Regions from separate parts of the Homo sapiens genome. Here region 2 is linked to region 1. A link means that fine-mapping ties the variant in region 1 to the expression of a gene that starts in the linked region. Tissue or cell type: lung. Region 1 holds a variant in brackets; the other region holds the start of a gene. All regions are shown on one strand. Distances are from middle to middle.

Evidence for each region. PIP is the estimated chance that this variant, and not a neighbour inherited with it, causes the effect. A credible set is the group of variants that fine-mapping cannot tell apart.
Region 2: GRAMD2A starts here. The variant in region 1 is the best candidate, but not a certain one, in a credible set for the expression of GRAMD2A in lung (TOPMed, PIP 0.66).

What each region holds. Positions count from the first base shown.
Region 1 is chr15:72,395,181-72,399,397 of GRCh38, forward strand. It overlaps TMEM202 (transmembrane protein 202), which reads left to right and starts at 3,125. Exons shown (of 5, transcript NM_001080462.3): 1 at 3,125-3,227; 2 at 3,473-3,728. The coding sequence starts at 3,147. The variant AC/A (reference allele first, on the strand shown) is at 2,170.
Region 2 is chr15:72,195,289-72,199,505 of GRCh38, forward strand. GRAMD2A (GRAM domain containing 2A) reads right to left here and starts at 2,499. Exons shown (of 12, transcript NM_001012642.3): 1 at 2,443-2,499. The coding sequence starts at 2,483. It overlaps PKM (pyruvate kinase M1/2), which reads right to left. Exons shown (of 11, transcript NM_002654.6): 11 at 3,741-4,217. RefSeq lists an enhancer at 1,937-2,116 and a silencer at 2,227-2,646.

The DNA of each region.
Region 1 (4,217 bases):
CGATAGGCCCCAGTGTCTGTTGTTCCCCTCTATGTGTCCATGTTCCCACTGATAAGTAGGAACATGCAGTATTTGGTTTTCTGTTCCTGCATTAGTTTGCTAAGGATAATGGCCTCCAGCTCCACCCATCTTCCTGCAAAGCACATGATCTTGTTCTTTTTATAGCTGCATAGTATTCCATGGTGGATATGTGCCACATTTTCTTTATCCAGTCTACGATTGGTGGGAATTTATGTTGATTCCATGTCTTTGCTATTGTGAATAGTGCTTCAGTGAACATACATGTGCATGTGTCTCTATGATAGAATGATTTCTATCCCTTTGGGCATATACCCAAAAATGGGATTGCTGGGTCAAATGGTAGTTCTTTCTGTCTTCATGTCTTTGAGGAATCATCACACTGCTTTCCACAATGTTTGAATTAATAATTTACACTCCCATCAACAGTGTATGTGTTCCTTTTTCTCCACAACCTCGCCACAGTCTGTTATTTTTTTGACTTTTTATAGTAGCCATTCTGACTGGTGTGAGATGGTATCTCATTGTGGTTTTAATTTCTCTAATGATCTGCCCCTCTTTCCACGGTCTCCCTCTCCCTCTCCCTCTCTTTCCACGGTCTCCCTCTCCCTCTCCCTCTCCCCTCTTTCCACGGTCTCCCTCTCCCTCTCCCCTCTTTCCACGGTCTCCCTCTCCCTCTCTTTCCACAGTCTCCCTCTCATGCCGAGCCGAAGCTGGACTGTGCTGCTGCCATCTCGGCTCACTGCAACCTCCCTGCCTGATTCTCCTGCCTCAGCCTGCCGAGTGCCTGCAATTGCAGGCGCGCGCCGCCACGCCTGACTGGTTTTCGTATTTTTTTGGTGGAGACGGGGTTTCGCTGTGATGGCCGGGCTGGTCTCCAGCTCCTGACCGCGAGTGATCCGCCAGCCTCGGCCTCCCGAGGTGCCGGGATTGCAGACGGAGTCTCGTTAACTCAGTGCTCAATGGTGCCCAGGCTGGAGTGCAGTGGCGTGATCTCGGCTCGCTACAACCTCCACCTCCCAGCCGCCTGCCTTGGCCTCCCAAAGTGCCGAGATTGCAGCCTCTGCCCGGCCGCCACCCCGTCTGGGAAGTGAGGAGCGTCTCTGCCTGGCCGCCCATCGTCCGGGATGTGAGGAGCCCCTCTGCCTGGCTGCCCAGTCTGGAAAGTGAGGAGTGTCTCTGCCCGGCCGCCATCACACCTAGGAAGTGAGGAGCGCCTCTTCCCGGCCGCTATCCCATCTAGGAAGTGAGGAGCGTCTCTGCCCGGCCGCCCATCGTCTGAGATGTGGGGAGCGCCTCTGCCCTGCTGCCCCGTCTGGGATGTGAGGAGCGCCTCGGCCTGGCCGCGACCCTGTCTGGGAGGTGAGGAGCGTCTCTGCCCAGCTGCCCTGTCTGAGAAGTGAGGAGACCCCCCGCCTGGCAACCGCCCCGTCTGAGAAGTGAGGAGCCCCTCCGCCCTGCTGCCACCCCGTCTGGGAAGTGAGGAGCGTCTCCGCCCAGCAGCCACCCTGTCCGGGAGGGAGGTGGGGGTCAGCCCCCGCCAGGCCAGCCGCCCCGTCCGGGAGGGAGGTGGGGGGTCAGCCCCCCACCCGGCCAGCCGCCCCGTCCGGGAGGTGAGGGGCACCTCTGCCCGGCCGCCCCTACTGGGAAGTGAGGAGCCCTTCTGCCCGGCCAGCAGCCCCGTCCGGGAGGGAGGTGGGGGGTCAGCCCCCTGCCCGGCCAGCCGCCCCGTCCGGGAGGTGAGGGGCGCCTCTGCCCGGCCGCCCCTACTGGGAAGTGAGGAGCCCCTCTGTCCGGCCAGCCGCCCCGTCCGGGAGGGAGGTGGGGGGTCAGCCCCCCGCCCGGCCAGCCGCCCCGTCCGGGAGGTGAGGGGCGCCTCTGCCTGGCCGCCCCTACTGGGAAGTGAGGAGCCCCTCTGCCCGGCCACCACCCCGTCTGGGAGGTGTACCCAACAGCTCATTGAGAACGGGCCATGATGACAATGGCGGTTTTGTGGAATAGAAAAGGGGGAAAGGTGAGAAAAAGAATGAGAAATCGGATGGTTGCTGTGTCTGTGTAGAAAGAAGTAGACATGGGAGACTTTTCATTTTGTTCTGTACTAAGAAAAATTCTTCTGCCTTGGGATCCTGTTGATCTATGACCTTACCCCCA[AC/A]CCTGTGCTCTCTGAAACATGTGCTGTGTCCACTCAGGGTTAAATGGATTAAGGGCGGTGCAAGATGTGCTTTGTTAAACAGACGCTTGAAGGCAGCATGTTCGTTAAGAGTCATCACCACTCCCTAATCTCAAGTACCCAGGGACACAAACACTCTGCCTAGGAAAACCAGAGACCTTTGTTCACTTGTTTATCTGCTGACCTTCCCTCCACTATTGTCCTATGACCCTGCCAAATCCCCCTCTGCGAGAAACACCCAAGAATGATCAATAAAAAAATAAAAAAATTAAAAAAAAAATACAAAGATTAATTTCTCTAATGATCTGAACATAGAAACCAGCAAAGATTTCATGATGAAGATGCAAAAAGCAATTGCAACAAAAGCAAAAATTGACAAATGGGATCTAATTAAACTAAAGAGCTTCTGCATAGCAAAAGAAACTATCAATAGCGTACACAGAAAACCTACAGAAAGGGAAAATTTTTTTGCAAACTATGCATCTGACAAAGGTCTAATATCCAGCATCTGTAAGGAACTCAAATAAATTTACAAGAAAAAGACAAATAACCCCATTAAAAAGTGGGCAAAGGGCATGAACACTTTTCAAAAGAAGAAACACATGTGGCCAACAAGCATATGAGTTCCCCTTTTTTTATTTGCTATGAGGGAACTGTGTCTTATTTATTTTTGTGTCCCAGAAGCTAGCACAAAGCCTGACACACAGCCACTGCTAACAAAATGTTTGTGGATTTATTTAATAAAAGAGTTGGGAGTAGGTGGAGAATGGAGGGTGGGGAGCATCACACATACATGCACATGCTTAAAATGTGGTGATTTCTTCCTGATCTGACCAGATCAAAAATATAAAACAGAAACAGGATCTATGCCATGGGTCCTGGCCCTTTTTGCTTCTGCCAGCATGTGTGAGGAGATGCAGAGACAAATTCCGTGGCAGTTAGAGAACTAACTGCCAAGATGGAGCGAAGGGAACATTTAACCTTGACTTTCCACAGTCCTGAGGTTCCCAAAATAAAGGGGAACCGGAAATACCAAAGGGTGAGGAGGTATCTAATTGAAAGTCAGATGGGAAGAAGAGAACTTACTTAAAGGCAGGGCTACACAGAGCATCCTAAAGACAGAAAAGATCACCCTGAAAATTGTGGGGTTTTTTTTTTTTAGGAGTAGGGAAAAATATCTATAAATCAAACACACATGGGAATGCTTGAGGTAGAGAAGAGCGGGTGACCCTGGGGATCAGGGGTTATTCTTTCGGGTAGGCAATATTTCCCTCATCCTTGTAGCCTACCGTCCCTGCCAAGAAACATCCAAGTGCCTCGATGTCATGCCAAAGGCAGCAGCAGCTTATGGATCAGGCACACATCTACATCCGAACGCTCTGTGGCAGCCTCTGTAGTTTTAGCCTCCTAATGCTGATCGCCATGTCCCCACTGAACTGGGTACAGTTTCTGGTGATCAAGAATGGCCTTGAGCTCTACGCAGGACTCTGGACCTTATGCAACCATGAGCTGTGCTGGAGCCACACACCCAAGCCACCCTGTGAGTGCCACCGAATTAAATGCCACAGGCCCCACACAATTGCAGAGCTTTCTGCTCACACAAATTGGCCCTTCATGTTTCTTCCTCCAAGATCTTTTGGCCTTCACCTCTCCAAGTGCAGGATGGATCTTTCTTTGGTATCCTCAGTGTGCCCTTTCTCTCTCCTATTCCAGGTTGTTTCCTGTCCTAAATAATGGGTTATACTCTCTTTATGGGAAGAACTGTTTTTGTTTGTTGGTTGGTTTTTCGAGACAGGCTCTTGCTCTAACGCCTAGCCGAAGTGCAAAAGCACTATCATTGCTCACTGCAGCCTCCACCTCCAGGACTCAAGCAATCTTCCTGTTCAACCTCCTGAGTAGGTGGAACTACAGATGTGTGCCAACACTCCTGGCTAATTTTTAATTTTTTTAAATTTTTTTTTCTTTTGTAGAGACAAGTTCTCATTATATTTCCCAGGCTGGTCTCAAAGTCCTGGCCTCAAGTGATCCT
Region 2 (4,217 bases), 200 kb before region 1:
GGAAGTGACTTGTCCCAAGTCGCAGCAAAACAGGAACAGCCTGAGGCTTAGAACTCACTTCTGATTCCAGAGTGAGGCTCTTCCCTCCAGCTGATAAACATGGTCCGTGGCAGGCAAGGACCAGAGCGAACCTAAGCAGGTTAGGGGCGGGGTGGAGCCACCCAGGAGGCACTAACAGCGCAGCAGCTCATGGGAGAGCTTCCAAGAGGCCAGCTGGCAGCAACCCACCTTGGGTACTGCCGACCTCAACCTCAGGGGGTCACGGGAGCACCCTAGGTGGATGAATTAGCATACAAGTCTCTCTGGTCTGTGCCAAAGCTTTGGGGCCTTGCTAAATTTAGAAATTTGAGGCCAGGTGCAGTGGCTCACACCTGTAATCCCAGCACTTTGAGAGGCTGAGGTGAGCAGCTCACCTGAGGTCGAGAGTTGGAGACCAGCCTGACCAACATGGAGAAACCCCGTCTCTACTAAAAAATACAAAATTAGCCGGGTGTGGTGGCGCATGCCTGTAATCCCACCTACTCGGGAGGCTGAGGCAGGAGAATCACTTGAACCCAGGAGGCGGAGACTGCAGTGAGCCGAGATCACGCCATTGCACTCCAGCCTGGGTAACAAGAGCAAAACTCCGTCTCAAAAAAAAAGAAAGAAATTTGAAAGCAGCCAGCAACATCAAGGCACAGATGGAGCTTGAGCTACCCTCTTCAGGCTATTCAGAAAATTCTCCCAAGGGGAAGTTGGGAAGGAGAACTTCTATTTGGCCCCAGCCTAAACTCTCCTGGAAGCTCGATGGGGCCTCTGTCAGCTTTCCCCTCTGGACCTGCCCATTTGTCCCAGAGGTGCCCACTGAGGCTACCTCAATGCCTGTCAAACTAAAACTTAAACCTAAGAGTGTCTGCAGCATGGTCTCCAGCCAGCCTGATCAGAAGACTATGGAGGGGGCCAGGCACGTGGCTCACACCTGTAGTCCCTGTAATGCTAGCACTTTGGGAGGCTGAGGTGGGTGGATCACCTGAGGTCAGGAGTTCAAGACCAGCCTGGCCAACATGGTGAAACCCCATCTCTACTAAAAATACAAAAATTAGCTGGGCGTGGTGGTGGGCACCTGTAATCCCAGCTACTCGGGAGGCTGAGGCAGGAGGATCACTTGAACCTGGGAGGCAGAGGTTGCAGTGAGCCAAGATCCCACCACGGCACTCCAGCCTGGGTGACAGAGTGAAACTGTCTCAGAAAAAAAAAAAAGAAAAAAGAAGGAGGGGCATACTGACTCCTCACTGAAGAATGGGATAGACACCCTCTATTCTACCTCTCCCAGCAAGGCCATAAGTCTTTGCTCTGAAAGGAGCCAGACTTTAGAGCCGGCTACAGGTGGACATGGGGTGAAGACATCAGGTTGCGAGGGTACCCTCTCTCGTTCCCTAGGAGCCTGGCCCCTGCAAGGAGGGGCACCTTTAAACAATCAAGCATAGTGAGTGGGGCGGCAAGCAGAGCAGAGACACAGACGACAGCGGGGTGGAGCCCCACCAGTCCCTCTGAGTATAAGGCAGAGGGAGTCCCGCTGGGGTCCACATCCCTGTGTGTCTCGGGCTGATTTGGACACAAGGCTCACACATTCATCCTACCTGCCCCAGTGCTAGCTGGCCGAGGATGCCAGGCTGTACCCGACCTTAGGCTGTGCGGCTTGGAACCTGGACCGGGGCAGGAATTGACAGGTTCCCCCAAACAATGTCACTCCCAGGACCCTAAGACCTCAAGCAGCAGAAACCACAATTCTGGATGTTACGTGCAGCGCCAGCTCCTGTCTGCCCTGCCTCCTTATCCCTTTCTCCCAGGGCGACTTTGGACCAGGTCTCGAGGCCGGGAGACCGGCCCCAGCCCGCCCGACCGGGATGGGCCTGGCGCCCGGGGGAGGCCGCGTCGTGCTGAGACAGCTCCGAGCTGCCTCCCCGCAGCCGCGGGCCGCTACAATACGGATTCGGCGGCGAGAGGAAACAGTCTGGCCCTCCAGGGGACGCAGGGAAATCCAACCTTTGGGTCGGGGGCAATTAGGACTGGGAGTCGATACCGCGGGCAACGAATGATGAATGAATAAATGAAAGGATGAACAGAGTGGCGAGGCGGAGATGGGCCATGCGGGGCGTCCCGAGGAGGGTGCCCTTCCTTGCCCCGATGCTGCCGGGACCGTCCCTCATCCCCCAGGTCGCAGCAGACTCAGCCAAGACACCCGGTCCTAGTGCGAACACCTCGCGGGCCCCGGGAGACGCCTGGGCGCGCGGTGCAGCTCTGGCCCGGAGCCCGCATTCCGGCGGCCGGGAAGTGCCTGCCCCGTGGGCAGAACGCGCCGAGTTGCCGCGGCCCCAGGAGCCGTCCTGCCCCGCGCGGCAGCAGCCCCTCGCGGCGGCCTCCGGAACCCCCGAGACCGGCCCCCGGGCCGCAACCCCTTACCCGCCCTCCTCGGTGGCCTCGCTCCGGCTTAAAGCGGTCATCCCGGCGCCTGCACCCAGCGCCCCGACCGCGCGCCGGGACCCAGCGCCCGCCGGACCCCGCCCGCCCCGTCGAGAGCCCGCCCCGCCCGCCCGCCCATTGGCGGGTCGCGCGGGCCGGGCACAGCCCATTGGCCGTTCCTCCCCCTCATTCCCCAGCTTCCCCAGCTTCTCTCCTTCCCCACCTTCCCCAGGTGGGGCTCCAAGCTCTGAGCAGATCCTAGCGCTCGGTTCCCCGGACTGGGAGGTCCCGGAGGCCAGGGCCTGGCGCGGCACCTCCTGTCCCTCACGTCGAGGGTATTGTGTCCCCTCTGGACGCTTCTGTCGTCCTAGTCTTGCGGCTTGGGTCCCTCTGCAGGAACCAATTCCGGCCCCTCTCCAACCTAACCCTTCCCAACATAGAGCTCCGGATAAGTTTCAATTTTACCGTCAGTGGGGAACACCAAAGGGGATATTGAACACCATGGTCTGACAGCCAAGTCACCACCACGAACCCGGGAGCCAGGATGCTCCCACGCACTTTTGCCGGAGTTAACATTGCAGTTTCTCCAAGGAAATACACTTTTGGAGGAGTCTGCAAAGGGGCTGAAGGTGGACACAAATCAAAGGCAGGGAAGCAGAGGCACGTGCGCTCAGTGTGACAATGAGCTTTTGCCTGGCCTGCAGGCCCTTTCCTCTTCCATCCCCACCAGGACACTTGGTCCTTGGGAGTGTGGTCAGGGGAGAGGAAAAGCGCAGGCCAGATTTGGTCCCATTCCCAACTCTCTCCCCCAGCCCTTTGGCACTACAGCATCATGGTGGGAGGGCACCAGCAAACAGGAGGGGTCCCAAGGGGAGCCTAGGTCCACAACTGAGGACCTGGGAGCCAAACCCAGTCTCAGGCGCCCAGAGCTGACTCCTCCTACAGCCCCCATAAGGGATACGCTAATGCAGGAAGACCAAAGTGGAAGAACCATGGCCAAGGCCACTTTGCAATTTGGGTTTATCTACCAGAGTGGGAGGGAGGCCTTGTCCCTGCTCTTTCCCATCTTCGGTTCACGTAAGCCATTAAAGTCTCCCCGCAGCACTGAAGGGGGCAACCTGTAACCCTAAGATAGTAAGCTACTGCTTTCCCAGCGCCTCTGCACCAGGAGGTGGGCAGGATGGCAGGTGACACCACCATAGCTCCCACTGCGGGGCACGAGGCTGCAGCCATTCCCAGCCTGCTCAGAGGGCAGGGTTCAACCACCTCCCCCTCCCCAGCAGAAAAGAGAGGAAACAGGTGCTTCAGCTGTTGTTTATTGACATACAGGTAGGCTCTATAGCAACAGGCCTGGAGGTGCTGCAGTAGTGGGGGAAAATGGAAGGTGGAGGGTGGAGTGTTTGCTGCAGGACAGCTGAGTGGAGGGTGGGGACAGGTGCAAACTGGAGAGGCCTAGAGAGCTAGAGAAGCAAGTAAGGGCCAGGGCCAGAGTCGGCTTCAATGGAACAACAGCCCAGTGCCCTAAGGCCCCTAACTCTTGCTGGCTGTTTCTTGACCCCAAGCCAGGGTTGGGAGTCCTCTGGGCATCCATTTTTTCTAAAGGAACTGGACAGAGTACACACAGGAAAGGAAGCTGTCACCCTCTTGCCATCTGGCTCCAGGGGCCTCCAGTCCAGCATTCCTCCTTCTTCCCTTGATTGGGTGGGGCCACATGATGGGCAGCCAGGCTCTGGGCTGTCCCACTAGAGCAGGCTGCAAACACAGCCATGTTTCAG